4 linked regions of the Homo sapiens genome follow. The protein of the gene in region 2 purifies or fractionates together with the protein of the main gene of each other region. This does not show direct contact. Each region holds a gene or a part of one and is shown on either strand. Other genes may lie near its edges.

Evidence for each region.
Region 1: the proteins of ZNF684 (region 2) and RABL6 purify together in Homo sapiens (affinity purification with mass spectrometry, with the first as the bait; one large-scale study listed by BioGRID). This does not show direct contact.
Region 3: the proteins of ZNF684 (region 2) and CLCC1 purify together in Homo sapiens (affinity purification with mass spectrometry; one large-scale study listed by BioGRID and IntAct). This does not show direct contact.
Region 4: the proteins of ZNF684 (region 2) and MTMR4 purify together in Homo sapiens (affinity purification with mass spectrometry; 2 studies listed by BioGRID and IntAct, with this or other methods). This does not show direct contact.

Annotation. Positions count from the first base shown.
Region 1 is NC_000009.12:136,824,948-136,828,447, reverse strand, and holds part of RABL6 (rab-like protein 6), read right to left. Parts: intron 2,670-3,500; coding exon 2,622-2,669; intron 1-2,621. UniProt on the Homo sapiens protein: May enhance cellular proliferation. May reduce growth inhibitory activity of CDKN2A.
Region 2 is NC_000001.11:40,541,637-40,545,136, reverse strand, and holds part of ZNF684 (zinc finger protein 684), read right to left. Parts: coding exon 3,427-3,500; intron 1-3,426. UniProt on the Homo sapiens protein: May be involved in transcriptional regulation.
Region 3 is NC_000001.11:108,942,985-108,946,484, forward strand, and holds part of CLCC1 (chloride channel CLIC-like protein 1 isoform 1 precursor), read right to left. Parts: intron 1,074-3,500; coding exon 852-1,073; intron 632-851; coding exon 491-631; intron 1-490. UniProt on the Homo sapiens protein: Anion-selective channel with Ca(2+)-dependent and voltage-independent gating. Permeable to small monovalent anions with selectivity for bromide > chloride > nitrate > fluoride.
Region 4 is NC_000017.11:58,504,639-58,508,138, reverse strand, and holds part of MTMR4 (phosphatidylinositol-3,5-bisphosphate 3-phosphatase MTMR4), read left to right. Parts: intron 1-819; coding exon 820-1,016; intron 1,017-1,267; coding exon 1,268-1,396; intron 1,397-2,555; coding exon 2,556-2,667; intron 2,668-3,164; coding exon 3,165-3,360; intron 3,361-3,500. UniProt on the Homo sapiens protein: Lipid phosphatase that specifically dephosphorylates the D-3 position of phosphatidylinositol 3-phosphate and phosphatidylinositol 3,5-bisphosphate, generating phosphatidylinositol and phosphatidylinositol 5-phosphate.

The DNA.
Region 1 (3,500 bases), on a different chromosome or scaffold from region 2:
TGGGCCATAGGAGGAGCATGGTCCCCCCATGGCCACTCAGCCCCCAGCTCCAGCGGGTGCTCTACTCCACCACCCCAAACAGCCTGCAGCGTGGGCACCCACAAGCTCTGGAGCAGCAGGACCTGGGCGAGGCCCCTCTGTAGGCTCTGGAGGCAGGGCTGGGCCGGGCCTGGACAGGAGGTGCTAGTTGGGGCTGACAGGCTCAGCAGCTCCTGGACAGGCTGCGGTGGGATGGCCTACAGCCCTACACCAGGAGGGTTTGCTGCTGAAGGAAGGGCCCCCTCCCCCCAGCTCCCCCAAGTCCAGGGTGGGAGGAAGTACAAGGGATATGGTGGGAAGGTGAGGGGCCTCCCCCTGGGGTAAAAGTGGGGAGATGAGCGCACGGACTCTCAAGGCAACAACCAGCCCGGGAGGAAAGGAGAGGGGGGCAGGGATTCCAGCCCTGAAATGGCCTCGGGAGGGAGGAGGGCAGCTGTGTGGTGTCCACGGTCCAGGTCCCCCTGAGCCTCCGCCATCAAGGTCACCATGGCTCTCCTGAGAATGAGGGGCCGTGGTCCCCTCCCTTTAACTCCACAATGCTGACCTGAGGATAAAGGCTCCAGACCATCCTGGGAACTCTGGGGGTCCCAGTCTTGGAGTCACGGACTGGGACAACAAACAAAACCCCTAAGAACAGATGGGGCTCATGTGTTTAAAACGCCACGTCCACTTCATTCCACAGCTTGTTTCTGAACTGCTCACCACGATGTAACCCAGTCAGGGGGTCAGCCCCTCCCTCACAAGGTACAGGGGACAGAGCCAGCCCGGAGGAGCCTCCCCAGTCTGGCCACAAAGGGCTCAGCAGAGTCCCCAACACACACACAGCACAGCACTGCTGGCTGTCGGGGGCCTGCACCCAGGAAGGATGCTCACAGCCTAACCAGCACCCCCCGGGCGAGCCATTGAGACTGGCTGGATCTGCTTTGGGGAAAGCAGGCGGGACTGGAGGGGAGCCGGGTCCTGGCTGACCAGGCGGAGGTGAGGATTGTCGGCTCACCTGAGGCTGCTCCATTCAGCCTCCCTCTTGGCAGCCTGCCCCATGCAGCGTCAGCTAAGCCTGATGGCCTCGGCTTCCTCTCACCCTTGAGAACTCACCAGGTGCCCAAGAGACCTCAACCCCCTCCAATGCACTCCCCACCGGCCGCCCTGGCTGCTGTGGACAGTGCTCACACCTCGCACAGTGGGCACTGAGTCAGGGCGGGGATGGAAGGCACACTGGGCCCCATCATGAAGCTGGGGACCTTTTCCTCCTGAGGGGCCCTGGTTTAGGCTGAGTGAGACTCTCCCGGTGGGTGCTAACAGGTGGGTGCAAGGGTACACATGTAACCCCAGAGGAAGCCCAGGGCCAGGCGGCCTCTGCACCCACAGGCCTCCACACCAGCCCCGGGCACAGCAGGCCACCAGGAAGGGGGGGCCCATCCTAAGCCGTGGAGACCACACCCTTTACAGTGCCCAGTTATGAACCCCACTCTGGGCAACCGTGTCTACGGGAAGCCTGTGCCCGCTCCACGCCAAGGACAGACCCAGGAAGCCAGAGCTGGAGGCACAGGAAATCTCTGCAGCTCCGAAAGGGGCCAGGATGGGGGTCAGGACGGCCCTTCCTGAGCCACCTGGGGGCCACAGGCAGATCTGATAGCTTCTCCTCACAGTGGGGATGAGGACAATGATAGGGCGGTGGGTGGCCACCTCTCTAACACCAGAGACCACGCAGAGCTCTGCAGAGACAGCATCTGGAACACCAGGTCAGCACGGGCCACAAGAGTCCAGCGCAATGTGGTGGGAGCCGCAGGGGCCCAGCACCCCTGCGGGAACTGCATGAGCACCTGCCTCTAACCCCCCATGGCCAAACCCACCCCAACAAAGCACAGGTGGAGGGAGGGGAGCATGCGCCATCCGAACAGACACCATCACACAGAGGCGGCGGCCGCCTTTCCAGCAGAGCCTCGTAACGAGGCCACAGCCAGGCCTGTGAGGCCGGGGCGTGCACGTGGCCAGCCCTGCACACACCACACATGCACACGGACCATGGGCCCCGGGGAGGGCCATGAGCTCCACCCTGAGGACTTAGAGGAACTCATGACCTTGTGGCTGAGGAGGAGACCAACGATGTCGAGGACACCCCGGGGGCTGGTGCTGCCCTCCCACGGTCCCCAGAGTGCAGGTCTGTGTGGCTGGGGATCCCTGGCAGGGACAGGAGCGCAGGAGCTGGGTCCTCAGCTATGGGCAGGGGGCCGCCTGGTGCTGGGCTACTCCGCCAGGCAGTGCAGGAGGAGGGCTCCCAAAATAGCACCCTGGGCCTTGGGGCTCAAAGCACACCCCCCGGCTGCACCTGCCGCCACCGTGCACGCGGTCACTCAGAGACGGGGAGTATGCTAAAGCAGCAAAGCATGCAGTGCCACAGGAGGGGCTGCGCCACGCTGCGGGGTCGCCACTGGATGTGGAGGGGAGCAGAGCAGCAAGACCCTGGGCACCGTCCACGAGGATGGTGGGTGATGCATGGGCGCCGGGGGAAAGAAAGGAAGCCTCTCTGCGCAGAGCACACAGTCCCAGAGAGAAGCAGACACAGAACAGAGACGCCTCACCTTTGTCTACTACATCCCAGACTTCAACCTTCACGATGTCATCCGTGGCTGAAACAGGGAGAATCCTAAAATTAGTGCCCAACATGAAGTTCCCAAGGTGGCACAAAGCGGTCCAGCTGGTGTGGTTGTCTGTGCCCCGCAGCCACCGGCTCCCACCAGGACTTCCGAGTGTCCAGAAGCAGGGGATGTGTCCTCCCCAGACGACCACATGGCGGCTCCTTCAGGCCTTCGCTCAGACACAGCTTCAGTGACAAACTGAATGCACGGTATCTCCCTCCGCAGCCCCAATCCTGGGCACGGCCCCTCCCTCCCGGGCCCCGATCCTGGGCACGGCCCCTCCCTCCAGGGCCCCGATCCTGGGCACGGCCCCTCCCTCCCCGGCCCCGATCCTGGGCACGGCCCCTCCCTCCCGGGCCCCGATCCTGGGCACGGCCCCTCCTGGCCTCAGCATACTGGAAGGGGACCCTCCTGGCTGGGTCGATGTCTGTGTTTTTGCCCATGGAGTACGCTTCTGCTGACAGGTGCGAATGAATGGGCCCGCCTGTGTCACCTTCTGACCCTGTTTCTTCATCCAGTGACTGGCCTCTAGTTCACTTTGAGGGAGCAGAATCTAAGTAATCACTGAGGGCGGAGGCCGGACCCTCCCTTCGGAGCCACCTGAGAGGCCCCAGGCCTGCCTCACACCGCACCATCGCAGCTGGGCCTGCTGGTGCCAACCACTCCTCCTGAGCTCCCATGACTGTGCTCTGTTGTGGGGCGTGCTGGGGACTGGGGGAGCTGATGGATGGAGCCTCCCGCCCACCCAAGGATTCCAAGGGGAAGGGAGAACCAGAGGGGAGAGGCACGCCCGGGGCCCTCACACAGCCAGGCATCTGCCCC
Region 2 (3,500 bases):
TTTCCGCTCTATTTCAACCGATGGGAAGCAGCATCTTGCATTACCTCTACCAACAATAATCCACTGAAAAATTCAACATAATCAGCCTGGCAAACAAAATTATGCAAGATATGAATTCACTCATGGGAAGCATGCATTTCACTAGTCCTCAACAAATACCTTCTACTCCATGGATTCTAGATTCCTAAATTCAATCTTTTGCTCATGTTCGTTGTCCACCTTCATTTGCACCCCCCCTTATCTCCTCTCGTCCTATCTAGAACTTAGATACTCTTTAGGGAGGAACCACTGTTCCATGACCTCAAAAAAAAGACTTCTCCAAATTTTGCATACTTTAAACTTTAAGCTCCATTTTCTATGAATTTCTAAGATAGTCACTGCTGCTGTCTGTCATTTTGACAGTTAATTAGAACAAAACTGCAATGTTAATGTGCATTGAAGAAATGTTTCATACTCGTTTGTTGAATTTTAAAATACTTTATTTTTGGGCCAGGCACGGTGGCTCACACCTGTAATCCCAGCACTTTGGGAGGCCAAGGCGGGTGGCTCACAAGGTCAAGAGATCAAGACCATCCTGGCCAACATGGTGAAACCGTGTCTCTACTAAAAATACAAAAATTAGCCAGGCATGGTGGCGGGCGCCTGTAGTTCCAGCTCTTCGGGAGGCTGAGGTAGGAGAATCACTTGAACCCGAGCTGAGATTGCGCCACTGCACTCCAGCCTGGCGACAGAGCGAGACTCTGTCTCAAAAAAAGACAAACAAACAACAACAAGAAAACAAAACTTTTACTTTTTATTTATATATTGTTTTCCTAACCACTAAACCACCAGGGAAAATATTTTAATATGAACATGTTTTGCTGTTCCAACTACCTTTCATAAGTTAGAAAATGGTAATGAGATTTTTGCTTCCTTTGAACCTTTTCAGGTAACATTTTTAAAAGCCTTGTTGAATGGAAGAATAAGAAACATCTCCCACATTGCTATGACAGGGATACTGAAAAAAAAGAAAAATAAAAAAAGAAACATCCCCCACAATGTCTGGCTCTATAACAATAAATTAATAAAATATTCATTGGATACCATGATGTGCTCTGCATAAAACAGGTCATTCTCTTCAGGCACTATCATAAAAAAAAAAAGAAAAAGAAAACAGGCCTTAAAAGCCACATGCATTAAAAAAATATATCCAAGACAGTATATGTAAATTTTTCATGACAGAGTCATAATAGAATTGGCTTGGGAGTTCAAAGAAAGTGAAGATTAATTTAGACTGGAGTTACAATGAAAGAGGAAAAGCTGAAATCAGACTTAAGAAAATGCTGGTTTTAGGAACAGACCAGAATCAGAAGGATTGATGCAGAGAAGAAAACGGTATATAAGCTGGGCGAGGTGGCTCACGCCTGTAATCCCAGCACTTTGGGAGGCCAAGGCGGGAGGATCATGAGGTCAGGAGACCGAGACCATCCTGGCTAACGTGGTGAAACCCCGTCTCTACTAAAAGTACCAAAAATTAGCTGGGTGTGGTGGTGGGCACCTGTAGTCCCAGCTACTCGGGAGGCTGAGGCAGGAGAATGGCGTGAACCCGGGAGGCGGAGCTTGCAGTGAGCCCAGATCTCGCAACTGCACTCCAGCCTGGGCAACAGAGCAAGACTCTGTCTCGAAAAAAAAAAAAAAAGAAAACTGTATATAGTGGACATTAAAAAGGCCAATTTCCATGGAATAAAAAAAAGATGGATAATTCTGGGTAAGTAAAATGGGACCATGTTATAGAGGACATTAAAAGCCATTTAAATATCACAACACAGGTTATAAAGGGGATAATTTACATTTTTCAGGAGAGCAACAACAGAAATAGAATAATTTGGATAAATCTTGTAGAAATATCTAATGTAAACTAGAAAATAGAATGTAATTTGTAAAACAGTAACATAAACAGTCTAGATACAATATCAGTAATTAAAATTCAGCTGAGGACTGTGGCATGTGCCTGTGGTCCCAGCTGCTTGGGAAGCTGAGGCAGGAGACTTGCTTGAGGCCAGGAGTTCAAGGCTGCAGTGAGCTATGATGGCATCACTGCACTCCAGCCTGGGTGATGGAGTAAGACCCTGTCTCTAAAAAAAAAGTCATTTGGTTTATGTCAACAGAAGTTGGGGTCCCAGGGAATCTGAAATATATTTAATTGGTGTCAATCATTTGAAAGATATGTCAATCATTTGAAAGAGTTCTTTTGTGAACTCTGCAGAAAGGGAAAATTTAATTTTGAATCAGTCTTGAATAAACTAATCGCTGAAATCATAGGCCATAAGTTAGTATCATATTTAAGGAGAAACTATTGACAGGAAAAAAATCAAATTGCTTAATGCAGTGGTTTTGAGACTGCAAAGCAGGGGGCCATTCATTATTATTTATTGTGATATAAAGCTAAGGGTGACAATTGAAGAAATAAAAAAATTAGTTACCATGAAGGCCAGGTAGAGTAAAATTATGGGAATGAAAAGTTGGTGAGGCAAAGATGCTAGAGTTGGCATAAAACAAGTAACTTTAGTTTTCAGAGTGATGAGGCTTCTGAGGGAGTTATTGTAGAGAGAAGTCAAGAAGATGGAAGAGAAGGCCTGAGCAAAAGGTGAATAAGCAGTAAGAAAGGGTGAGAACAGATTAGTAAGACAACAAAAAGCTGGAGGGGAATTTCAAAAAGTTATCAATATTACCAAGTGAAACAGAAAGTTGCGCTACAAGACATATCCCAAATTATCAGGGAGAAGAAAGATGCAAGATGGGATTTATGATGCAAGAAAAGGAATAAGTTAAAGAAAAAACAAAAGGAAAATAAAATAGAACATGATGTACCTAAAAGTTTTGAAAAAAATAATTAGCATATACTGAACATTTACTATCTGCCAACTATTTGAAGTGTTTTGCATGTATTACCTCATATAATCTTTACAGGAAACCTGAGGTAAGGATTAATGTTCCTATTTTATAAATAAAGAAAATTATGCTACAAAATAATCTGCTTAAGGTTAGACAGTGATTGGTAGAGTAACGCCTCAAATTCAGATAATTTAACTTCATTATAAGGACTACGTATATAGAAAAAGATCGATGTTGAGAAGGGAAGAATAATGAGGGTTTTAGGAATTAAGAGAACATAAACAAAGCAAGGACCTAGATGAAACAGGCAGTGTGAGAAGCCTGAGGAGACAGGAGAGGGACAACCCTCCATACAACAGCTGAGCAAAGAGAAAGGGCACGTGTGGGGAGAATGAGGGTGAAGGCAGCTTTTGGGGAGCTGGCTGATGATGTTATGTTAAAGGTGTGTGGCTTTTAAGAGGTGCTTCTAAGAGTATTTCAGAACTTCCTGTCCCTCACTGACCAATGGGGATCTCAACTCCACACAGCCCCATCTGAATTTCTCTCACTCACCTGGAGAGCTCTCGTGTGGATTCGCTCCCTCCACCATCCATGGCTCTTGTCCTTGCTCTACCTTGAGGATCACT
Region 3 (3,500 bases), about 68 Mb from region 2:
GGCTCACTGCAACCTCTCAGGTTCAAGCAATTCTCCTGCCTCAGCCTGCTGAGTAGCTGGGACTACAGGTGCACGTCACCAGGCCCAGCTAATTTTTGTATTTTTAGTAGAGACAGGGTTTCACCATGTTGGCCAGGCTAGTCTTGACCTCCTGACCAAGTGATCTGCCCACCTCAGCCTCCCAAAATGCTGGGATTACAGGCATGAGCCACCACACCCAACCCACCTGGCTTTATTCTGACTTAGATGCCCAAATGTTAACATTAACTGGGTTATGAAAATTAGGACTGAACTTTTTTACCCACTAACTGGTCAAGGAATCAAAAAACTGTCAGCTAAGAAGTGTCCATTTAATTCCTCTCCAGCGTGGGCCACCTCTAATCACTGCCTCCAACCCACATCCAAGGCAAGATTGCTCTCAATGGATTAGAGTCTTCTTTCATTGTGAATAAATGTGTTAAAATTGTAAAACCCTCCATCCATATAATACCTTATATAAATACATCCAATTCCATCCCAAACTGAACAGAAAGCTGATGATTAAAACACGTCTCAACTGAGTGTACCAACGTACATATGTCCACAGCTCAGTAGCCACTAAAACCACGATGCAGAGCAGACAAAGAAGTACCTTAAAACAGAGAGAAGCAGAAATCAGCCACCAAAAACACTTAAGACAGCTAAAAAGAACTGGACTCAAAAGCACAAAATCATTTCTACAATTTTGTGGCTTGTTCATCAATACGGTATAAGTGACCTAGTACAGGTTCTTAACGTAATTATGGTGGAGTTTGGAAAGTATTTTAAAAAGGAAACTTAATGACGTTGCCCTTGCCCTCATCCCATCTTACCATTAACACATTATATGGATCCACTCCAAAGGAATCTTCGAATCGCCACTTCCATGTTTCAAAATCATGAAACTTAAAATTAATTAAAATATCACTTAGTGCATCATCCAAGGCACCTGGTTTCCAGTCTTCTCCATTGAGAAACTTCTGTATTTCTAACAAAGTTTCTCTTTTAAGGATAATCTCAGCATCATAATGCATATCGCCTTTGTTTTCATCAGGCTAAATTAAATTTACCAAAAAACAAACAATAGAAAGAGAATTTTATTACTACTTGGTGAACCATTTTAAGACAAAAGCCAATTTGGAACTAAATATTAGTTTGCAGTATTTCATATGTATAAGAATAATAGCCTGGGCAAGGTAGCTCACACCTATAATCCTAGTGCTTTGACAGGCCAAGGTGGGAGGATAGCTTGAAGCCAGGACTTCAAGACCAGCCTGGGCAACAAAGCGAGACCCCATCTCTACAAAAAATTCTAACCATTAGCTGTGTGCAGTGGTGTGCACCTGGCTCCTGCCTACTCAGCAGGCTGAGGCAGAAGAATTGTCTGTGCCCCGGATTCGAGGCTGCAGTAAGCTATGAGCATACCACTGCACTCCAGCATGGGAGACAGAGTAAGACCCTGTCTCTAAAAAAAAAAAATAATAATAATATCCACCTGTCTTCACAGGCCAACATGAAAACCAAAGATAATATACATGAAAAACATTTAAAAATTCTAGAACTCTATGTAAAAAAGATACTGTAAATTTCACTAAAATACAGTTGATTCTTGCTATTCGCAGTAGTTATCGTCTTTTTTTTTTTTTAGATGGAGTCTCACTCTGTCGCCCAGGCTGGAGTGCAGTGACGCAATCTCTGCTCACTGCAAGCTCCACCTCCTGGGTTCACGCCATTCTCCTGCCTCAGCCTCCCATGTAGCTGGGACTACAGGTGCCCGCCACTACGCCTGGCTAATTTTTTCTATTTTTAGTAGAGACGGGGTTTCACCGCATTAGCCAGGATGGTCTCGATCTCCTGACCTCATGATCCGCCCGCCATGGCCTCCCAAAGTGCTGGGATTACAGGCGTGAGCCACTGCACCCGGCCTCACAGTAGTTATCTTCTATAAAGTCACCTCAAACACCAATTAGCAAGTACTGAACCATTACTCCTATAATAAATACAGGGTTTGGTTCGTGCAAACCTGTCATAACATTTTTATCAATTGATCAATATATAACCTTGTTTTATGTGTGTTTCTGTACATTCCTGTTTAAGGACACCTTATTTAAAATACATATTGTTCATTCACTAACACTGAACACATGGACAACTGTCCTATACCTTACGCTTGACTGAAGCCTATCTAATACACACCTTTTCCTTTTCTCTGTAAGTACATCGTGGCCTTCTTGCACTTAGAAACACTAGACCTCAGCTCAGCACTACATCAGAGGGCCGTTTTAAACAACGAAATGATGCTGTTTAATGATTGGTCTCAAAATAAAAATAAAAAAAATCACCCCTCTCCCCTCAAAAAAGCACGAAAAAATATACCACTAAATAGACCACAAAAAAAGACACTTGTTTGCAGTACGAGAGCTGAAACAAGAAAACAGTTTTGATTGCCTTGTTCCATCTCAGCTGGGAATGCCTGCAACAGGCAACCCAAATTTTTTACCACTCTTCACTGTGTCCCAGAGTAACCACAGAACACCTCGATTATTGACTTTGGGGTTACACAGACTTAATGAGGTCAATTCATAAATACGGAATCTGTGAAGAATGAGGATCAACTGTGCATCTTCATTTTATGATTCACTGCATGACTTTTCATTTCCTGACAGTTTTCAGATAGCCTAAAATCTGTATTAGTGCAAACAAGAAAAACAAGAAGGATCTCAAAGAGCAACAAAATAATGGGTTTCCATAAATTACATATTTATAACTACCTTTATTAGTGTGAGTTCAGCTTAGCAAAATCACTAAACAAATTTTGCATTAATTAGCCAGTTGATACAAATAAAATTCCTTTTTCTTTTATAAACAGTAAATACAAGGTGGGACATGGTGGCTCACACCTGTAATCCCAGCACTTTGGGAGGCCGAGGCGGTCAGATCACTTGAGGTCAGGAGTTTGAGACCAGCCTGGCTAACATGGTGAAATCCTGTCTCTACTGAAAACACAAAAATATTAGCCAGACGTGGCCGGGCGCGGTGGCTCATGCCTATAATCCCAGCACTTTGGGAGGCATGAGGCAGGCGGATCACGAGGTCAGGAGATCAAGACCATCCTGGCTAACACGGTGAAACCCTGTCTCTACTGAAAATACAAAAAATTAGCCGGGCATGGTGGCGGGTGCCTGTAGTCCCAGCTACTCAGGAGGCTGAGGCAGGAGAATGGTGTAAACCTGGGAGGCGGAGCTTGCAGTGAGCGGAGATTGCGCCACTGCACTCCAGCCTGGGTGACAGAGCAAGACTCTGTCTCAAAAAAAAAAAAAAATCAGAAACTAAATATTTTCCAGCATTTCCATCTTAAGTATTTTTGGTTCCATCTGTTTCCTTATCTAGGTTCTGTTCCACCCTGTACGTAGCTGTAAGGCTCAAATTACAGAGTGTACGTATGAGAACGCATCTGCTTCTACATTTCCAGAATAAGGTGG
Region 4 (3,500 bases), on a different chromosome or scaffold from region 2:
TAGGGAGGCCATTTCTTATGCAACAAGGAAAGAGTCAAAATTGGAGATTTTGGGTAACCTGGTTGACTGAGAATTGACACTCTATGGGGAAGTATGAAATAACTTTAAAACAAAAACTATCTTAGTTTTTTCTCCTAAGAATAAGGCTATTAGGGAGTTTATTCATTCCCCCCCTTTTTTTAGAGTGTGTGTGTGTGTGTGTGTGTGTGTGTGTGTGTGTATAAAATAGTACATTATTTTATACACACATTAGTACAGGGGTTGGCAAACTGGCCTGCAGACAAAATCTGGCTTATAGCCTATTATATAAAACGGCTTGTAAGCTGTGAGTGGTTTTTACATTTTTAAAGGGCTATTTTTAAAAAAAGCAAAGAAGAATACATGACAGAAACTGGTTGTGACCCACAAGGCCAAAAATTGTTGTCTGGTTTTTTACTGAAAATGTTTGCTGATCCCTGCACTAGAATATTGTAGCTAAAATAGAGTGAGACAGGAAGTAACCCTGAAGTTTGGAATTGTTCCTATTCTTGGCTCAGCCAGGCCTTGTTCTCCTGCTGGGTGTCTGTACCTGGAGCAGTTGCTGTGCAGATTTGATGAGTCAAGGTCACCTTGGACATACAGAGCCCATTTGAGAAAGTATGTGTGATGGTGCTTTGTAAACGGTGAAGCCTGCTAGTGACGTTGGGGCTTTTGGTTGCTGTTATGGCCTGGATGAGTTGGTAGCCCCTGCTGGCTCTAGAGACTTTGGTCTAACCCCCTGAGGTAGGCCTCTGGAGGCTTCGAATGCCAAGGGCATTACGGTTTCTTCTGTTTTGTCAGACACTTGCGCAATGGGGCTGCCATCGCCCGCTGCAGCCAGCCAGAGATCAGCTGGTGGGGCTGGCGCAATGCTGATGATGAGTACCTGGTCACGTCCATTGCTAAAGCCTGTGCCCTGGACCCGGGGACAAGGGCCACTGGGGGCTCCCTCAGCACCGGGAATAATGATACCAGCGAGGCGTGTGATGCTGACTTTGGTAAGGTGTGGATGATGCTAACCCCCCAGGGAGCAGGCCCCCTCCTTGGCTTCATTGGCTCCCAGGGAGTCCCCAGTGAGAGTCTGGGAAGATGACAACACACGGGGTGCTGGGGTCCCTGCCTTGTCAGAAGCTGTGGGGTATGAGGGGTCTCTAGTTGCATGTTCTGCCTTCTGAGAGGGAGTGCCAGAGGGCCAGCAAGAGGTTGGGTGGCTGGCTGACTCAGGGACTCCTTCCTGCTGTGTGTTTAGATTCTTCTCTGACTGCGTGCTCTGGAGTGGAGAGCACAGCAGCTCCTCAAAAGCTGCTGATCCTGGATGCGCGATCCTACACGGCAGCAGTGGCCAACCGGGCCAAGGGTGGAGGCTGTGAATGTGAAGGTATTGCTGTTATCCCAGTGTCTGCAGCCAGCCTGTGCTCTGGGTGGCTTTGGTGAGGAGGGGGTTGGGGGCCATTTGTATAGTGGAAAGAGCCCAAACAAACCTGGCTTGTAATCACAACTTTGCTACCTACTAGCTATGGCTATGACTATGCTGAAGTTGCTTAATCTGTCCAAGCTTTATTTTCTCTTCTATAAGAAGGGGATGTTACACACTTTGCAAAATTGTTGGGATGATTAGAAGTTGCATATGTAGGCTGGGCCCAGTGGCTCATGCCTGTAATCCCAGTACTTTGGGAGGCAGAGGCAGGCGGATGGCTTGAGCTCAGGAGTTTGAGACCAGCCTGGGCAACATGGTGAAACCCTGCCTCTATCAAAAATACAAACCATTAGCTGGGCATGATGGTGCATGCCTGTGGCCCCATCCCAGCCACTTGGGAGGCTGAGGCATGAGAATCGCTTGCATCTGGGACGCAGAGGTTGCAGTGAGCTGATATCATGCCACTGCACCTCTAGCCTGGGTGACCATGAGACCCTGTCTTAAAAAAGAAAAAGAAGTTGTATATATAAAATTATTGCCACAGAGCAGCTACTATTTATTGAGAATTGATTATATATTGTCTTTCTAAGTACTGCTATCATTTGTCATTACTGTTACTATTATTAATATATGGCACCTGAGTCTCCAGAGATACAAGTGTGATTCAGATTTCAAGACTGTATTTAGTTCCTATCCTGGAGTGCTCTGCCCTGCCAGGAAAGCTTTGTCCACCAGGACCACTCTTGTCCTGGATGCCTGTTTCCAGGACGTGCTTTTTTTGTTTGTTTGTTTGTTTTGAGACGGAGTCTCGCTCTGTCGCCCAGGCTGGAGTGCAATGTGCCATCTCAGCTCACTGCAACCTCCATCTCCCAGGTTCAAGCAATTCTCCTGCCTCAGTCTCCCGAGTAGCTGGGATTACAAGTGCCTACCACTATGGCCAGCTAATTTTTATATTTTTAGTAGAGATGGGGTTTCACTGTGTTAGTCAGGCTGTTCTTGAACTCCTGACCTCAGGTGATCCAACCGCTTCAGCCTCCCAAAGTGCTGGGATTACAGGTGTGAGCCACCGCGCCCGGCCTAGGACGTGCTTTTATGTCCCACTCTCCTGTCATGTCTACAGAGTACTATCCCAACTGTGAGGTCGTGTTCATGGGAATGGCCAACATCCATGCCATCCGGAACAGCTTTCAGTACCTCCGGGCTGTGTGTAGCCAGATGCCGGATCCTAGCAAGTAGGTGTTCCCTACTTGGATTCCTTCCAGTCTCATTCCTTACCCAGTACCTCTTATTCTTGGAAGATTAGATGGGGAGATGAGAAGTTTGGAGAGCAGGAGACCTGAGGGCCTGGGTGGAGTTGGGTGCCGTGGGCTAGTTCCAAGAACCCTTCCACTTCTCAGCCAACACTTTGGCGTGGTCACAGGACATGGATTCCTTTCGTTTGGATCAGTTGTTCTACTCAAAGAACACAGAGAACTGGGGAGAGGAAATGGCTGAGTGTGCATGTGATGCTTCTCAGTTCCTCTTTTGAGCTTCAGATGCTTTTATCTGCTGTAGGTCCTGTCTTCCCTACCTTCCTGCTAGATACCTCTTGTCCAAAAGGCCCTGGGTTGTACCTCTTGGTTTCAGTTCTCAATGGGGACTTTGTTGGGTGGGGCTGGCTGTGGATGGTGGAGAGACTGCTGTGGCCTCAGCACCCTTTGTGACCGACTTGATGTCTGCTTTTGTGTAGCTGGTTGTCGGCACTGGAGAGTACCAAATGGCTGCAGCACTTGTCGGTGATGCTAAAAGCAGCTGTGCTGGTGGCTAATACAGTAGACCGGGAAGGCCGGCCTGTGCTGGTACACTGCTCAGATGGCTGGGACCGCACACCGCAGATCGTAGCCCTGGCCAAAATATTACTGGACCCATATTACAGGACGTTGGAGGTATTGAGAGGAATTCGGTGGGAAAACCAGAAGGAATGTGGCAGGAGGGAAGGTGTTGAGCCCTCTGGATCTGTCCTGGGGATCTTTCAGTAGAGGACATTGGTGGCTCTTTTTTTCTTTTTTTTTCCAACTCCCAAAGG